2 separate regions of the Homo sapiens genome follow, and region 2 is linked to region 1. A link means that fine-mapping ties the variant in region 1 to the expression of a gene that starts in the linked region. Tissue or cell type: nasal epithelium. Region 1 holds a variant in brackets; the other region holds the start of a gene. All regions are shown on one strand. Distances are between the middles of the regions.

Evidence for each region. PIP is the estimated chance that this variant, and not a neighbour inherited with it, causes the effect.
Region 2: it holds the start of CSGALNACT1, and the variant in region 1 is fine-mapped to the expression of CSGALNACT1 in nasal epithelium (TOPMed, PIP above 0.99). The same link has a PIP of 0.9 or more in whole blood.

Annotation. Positions count from the first base shown.
Region 1 is chr8:19,681,329-19,684,084 of GRCh38, reverse strand. The region is part of intron 1 of CSGALNACT1 (chondroitin sulfate N-acetylgalactosaminyltransferase 1); the gene reads left to right. The region is part of intron 1 of CSGALNACT1-AS1 (CSGALNACT1 antisense RNA 1); the gene reads right to left. Among named protein-coding and RNA genes, the nearest start is that of CSGALNACT1-AS1, 4.2 kb to the right of the region's middle. The variant T/C (reference allele first, on the strand shown) is at 1,334.
Region 2 is chr8:19,755,827-19,758,327 of GRCh38, reverse strand. It overlaps CSGALNACT1 (chondroitin sulfate N-acetylgalactosaminyltransferase 1), which reads left to right and starts at 1,051. Exons shown (of 9, transcript NM_001354483.2): 1 at 1,051-1,142.

The DNA.
Region 1 (2,756 bases):
ATACGATTCTCCTGCTTCAGCCTCCCAAGTAGCTGGGATTACAGGTGTGTGCCGCCATACCCGGCTAATTTTTATATTTTTAGTATAGACGGGGTTTCACCATGTTGGGGATGTTGGTTTTGAACTCCTGACCTCAGATGATCCACCTGCCTTGGCCTTCCAAAGTGCTGGGATTACAGGCATGAGCCACCACTCCTGGCCTTACTACATATTTTTATATTTGGTAGAATGTGGTCTTGCCCTCTGTCCCTCAATAGCTTTTCCTTAAAAAAAAAAATACTTTCTTGACTTTTCTTACATTTATTACACTATGAAAGCTTAAGAATCATTTTTGCCAAGCTGTAGAAAAAATCCTTTTGGGATTTAATTAGATTAATATTCATTTTACATAAATTTTGAAAGACTTGAGATCTATATAATAAATTACTTTCCAGGTATATGGTCTGTCTATTCCATTTTCCTTTCATGTGCTTGGTATTTTTTGTGTGTTTTTGGCAAATTTTTAATGTTCAGTTCTAGGTAGTTATTTTTAATATCAGTTACGAAAGGGACTGTATAGCCCTCTTCCACAATCTTTTCTAACTGGCTGCCATTGGTGTGTGGAAAGGCTATTTTTAAAAGAACTTGACACCTTACCAAACTCTTAGTAATTCTAATGGTTTTTAAATTGTCAGAGCTTTTTTTGCCTTGCTTCTACTTTCTGAAACCCATTTTTAGAGTGGTTTCTCATGACCAAGATCCTGATAAAATGCCATGACAACTGGCCCCCAGGCTGTGGGAGGTGGCGAGGGTCATGTGGCTATAGGCAGGCTTCCTAATCACAGTGATCGTGGTTGAGCAAAGTAGAGTAAAGGTGATGCCGCACAGACCTTGTAGAATTTTACACATCGTGGAAAAGCCTGACCAAGTGTGAACTCTGTAGCACAGATTGAACCATAGCACAGATCAAATCCTAACACCTGATCTGACATTTCATTCCATTATGTCCTGTGATCGCACACAGTTGCCTATCTGTTCCCGTCCATCCTGTCTGGCAATGGCAAATCACGGTCTCCAGGGTCATTTAAAGGGATGCTGTGTTCAGGGTGAACTCGTTCTACCTGCTCTTTGGTTTACGAAGGACTGCAGCGAAGTGAACTAGCGATGGATAAGTACAGGTAATTGGGATTTCATATATGGTCATGGGGTTGCTTGACAGCGGTCTGCAGTTGGACCTGTGAGGGCTGCTGACTGCAGTGTCCTGGCCCTGATTGCAGAACAGGATAGTGTTATCTGTGCTGGCCGGAAAGGCTGCTTAAAACCAGACCTCAAACTTGGGCAGACGGGCTTGTTC[T/C]GGGATCCGCAGCCTTGCTCAGGCTGTGCATTGGTGTGGCCCCGAATTGCACGGAGGTGAGTAACCCAAGACTTGTGTCAATGGCTTCCTTGTGGTTTTGGCTGTTGTTGCCTGAATATTTTACACAATCTTTGGGCTCTGAAGTCCCAGTGTACATCAGTGAGTGCTCTCCTTAGGTGGAAACCCTGGGAGTAGAGTACTGACAGCAAAGACCGGGAAAGACCATACGTCCCCGGGCAGGGGTGACAACAGGTGTCATCTTTTTGATCTCGTGTGTGGGTGAGTGGCAGAGGGAAGTTTCCTTTATTGGGTGTGAAATTTGCTGCAACTTTCTGTTTGGGGAGTGCTGGGAGCTGTTTTGTTTCTAATTAAGAAGAGCCCTAGGAAGGGAGGTAAGTGAGCTTGCCAACTCATTAGCAAACACTCTGATTAGACCTTCTGGGCACATTGCCTAGCGGCCCAAAGCAGGGAGAGGAGAGACAGGCTCGCTCCTAACACTTGCTGGACCCGAGGCAGGAGTACAAACAGAGGCTCACATTCCATGTGTCTAAGTAGCTGTTTCCAAGTTCTAAGTCAAGCTCTCTAAAAATCAGGTCCTATACTGCCATCCTGGTAAATAAACACGACCTTCACAACAACCTGGAAGCCAGGCTCCAATGTAGAATTCTCAGACTCCTCAAGTTTCTTGTCCAAAATCTTTCTGTGGTACAGGGAGACATCCCTGGCCACAGGTCCCAAGTCTGTCTACACCTCTGCAGACAACCTCTCTTATGCAAACTGGTGAAGTGCTTCACCCTTGAGAAAATGGACACTGGCAGGTAAAGCAGCAGGCCCAGGGAGACCTGGAGTGTGACCCAGAAGGTGGGGTGGTGTCCAGGTGAACATGTCTTGGGGGCCCTGTGAACTCTGCCCTATGACATGGTGTGGCTAGAGAAGGTGTGAGCAGTGCCTTCTGAGCATGGTGCTCAGGGCACGGGCCCAGACTCTGGCCCAGCCTGGCATTCCCAGGGCAGGGGACAGAGATGGGAGGAGTTGAGGGAGCAAGTGGGAACTTGGAAGCACATCCAGGCCAGATGAGGTGCTGCAAGTGCCGAGGTCAGGCACTTCAAGCGTAGGAACCCTTGGACGTACCAAATTATGGTTTTAGAAATGTCTGTTTGTTATTTTTAGATTTGGGCAGTATGTCGCCTGCAGATTTACCACTTACCTGATGCAGACCCAGGAGACTTGTCTTGTATCTGCTCTGACCTCTCTCCTCCCAGGTCCCTAGGTCCCCAGTTCTTCCTTTTAATGTTGTGCTGGTGGCGACAGAAGTCTGCTGTGATGGAGGAGCCAGCGATGGGGATGGGGGCGCGAAGGACAGATGCACCATTTCCCCCTTTGCCTCTCTCTCCCGCTGCATTTATGGATCTGCTGGTCTAGT
Region 2 (2,501 bases), 74 kb before region 1:
TCCCAGATGGAGACTCTGAGCCAGGCAGTAGAAGGAGCCATGGCCAGGTAGTAGAAAGAGCACTGCCTCAGGAGTCATAGGACTGGTTTCCAGCTCCGGTTCTGCGGTGGCTCAGCCCTGGGGCCTCTGCAAGTTGCTTAACCGCATCTGCAGGTGATGACCTCTTCCAGTCTAACTGACTCCTCCTGAGTCCCCCTCAATTACACTGAAAATTGGCGATCCTATTTCCCAACTCCCTCTCCCACAGAGATGCGCTGGAGCACTTACAGATAAAAGGCGACCTGTGGCCCTGGAGGGTGCCTGCCTGTGTGTGCTGGAGGTGGCGGTGGATCTTTTATTACCCAACACTCCACTTGCCTTTTTAGCCTTTCCTCTCCCTCTTCTCTCCTGGCCTCCCAGTGGCCGTCAGGGGTCCCTGCAGACATCGCTTACCCACAGTGGTGCGGTGTGAGAGTTACAGGGGTTCCTGACCTTCGCTGTAAGTAAAAGCTCTCTAGGGGAGGCGTTATAGCTGACCAGGGCAGCAGAGACCGCGACTAAAGCGTGAATTCCCCGAAGTGCGATTTACAAAGTTTTTGCATGGAAGTCGGCGCTCGGCGGGGAGGGCAGCCAAGGGAACAGAGCGGGTGGAGCAGGGGGATGGGGAACTCTGTCCTGCAAGAGTAAGGACCCCATGGAGATTGGACACCTCTCTCCTGCAACTCGGGCCACGCCACAGTGTCCTAGTCTCTAAACTTCTCCGGCTCTTGGTGTCCAGTCACGCGTAAACCGCCCCTGGTGTCCGAGCGCGGCCCCTTCCGAGAGTGACAGGCTTCGGCCAGGGCGCCGCTCCGACGGGCGCAGGGACGCACTGCAGAGAGGCCGTGGGTGACGCGGAGGTACGCGGCCAACCGCGACCCCAGCCCGGCCTTGGCCGCCCCCGCCGGACCTACCCTGCGGCGGGGCGCCAGGCTTGGCCGCTGTTGCGCCCGCCCGCCCGAGCCGCCGCCGCCGCCGCTGCTCCCCGCCCCCGGGGTCCCTGGAGGCTCCGCGGCTGCCGGAGCGGGAGGTGGAGCCGAGTCCGCGGCGGCCGCGCAGGAGGGAAAGTTCAGCGACGGCGGCAGCGGCCGGAGCCGGGCCGGGCAGCTAGCAGGGCGCTTCGGGTGAGTCGGGTCCCCTCCCGGGCCAGCCGGGCGCGGTGTGCCGCGCGGGGGCGTCAGTGGCGCCGGCAGATCCCCACAGCCCCGCGCGCCTAGCTCGCGCCCGCCCACCCCGCGACCTCGGGGTGGCTCGTGCAGCTGCGGAGGACGGTGCCGCGCCTGGCCTCCCTCCGCCGCTGCCCGCCGGGGGCCCAGGGCACGGGCAGGGGCCGGGGACCGGCTTGGCAGGCGGAGGGCGCGGCGCCTCCAGGTGGGCGCGCGGGGACGCGGAGGGAGCTTCCAGGGAGGGTCCGGGGCCGCTGCGCTCCCGGGGTCGGTTTGGCTTCACCAGCGTTTCTCGTGGCCTTCCGCTGTCTGATTGCTTTCTGCAAAACCCACTGAAAAGTAGCCTTTCCACGTGCCGCGCGATGACTGCGGTTATTGTATTATTGTGGCTGGGATGGAGAGGGTGGAGGGGGCGTGACGAGGGTGGCCGGTGGGCAGCGCGCTCGCCTGCCCGGGACCGGGCTAGTGGGGGATGTGGCTGAGGGTCACCGCTGCCCGAACATGCCCAGGGGACGTGCGATCGGTGGGCAGAAGCTGTTCGAGGGCATGATCTTGGGGTGGGATGGGGGCTAGAAGGGCGGGGAGGAGAGGAAAGCTGTAGGAAGCGGAGGCAAAGTTGTTTGTTTCCGTCGCACTTCCTGCACCTGCATTCCTGTCAGAGATTTTGAAGTTATCTTTTCATCGATGAGCAAAGAATGGTGAGAAAGGAAGAGATGTTAACAGCACTGTGCCTGCCAAAACAGTGAGCCTCGGGAAATACTCATAAGTGAAATACTAATAAAAAGCATGGAGTGGTTAAATTTCACAAACTCCACTTTTCTTCTGGTTTCAAAGCCTTGGTGCAGTTTTTACTTAACGTCATTAGATACGTCTAGATAATAAAGGTAATGAAGTGTTCTTTCACGGTTTTTTTTTTTAAACTGGAAATTTAAATTTAATTCTGTAGGATTTCGTCGACATTGTTCCTACAAGAAAGTCAAATTACCTTGGTGTTACTTGCAACAGTGAGCATTAATAAGCCCTGTGCAGTGCTGAAATGTTGCTAATTGGAGGGAGAAAGGTCCTTCAAACTTGGAAATAGACGCAGAAAGGCAAGATGAATTTTTATGTAAGCCTTAGGCATAAAAGGCGACTTGAACACGTTTTGTAATAGTGCATAATACACAGGGGACTAGGTGTTGGGCTGCCGGAAGATGGTCAATTCCTAGAAAGCAAGAGACGGGCCATACCCATTGTAAGATCACCGTACATATTTAATAATTCGTCTGCCTTGAGCTGCCACACCATATGTACTCCACATAATACAATATCAAAATA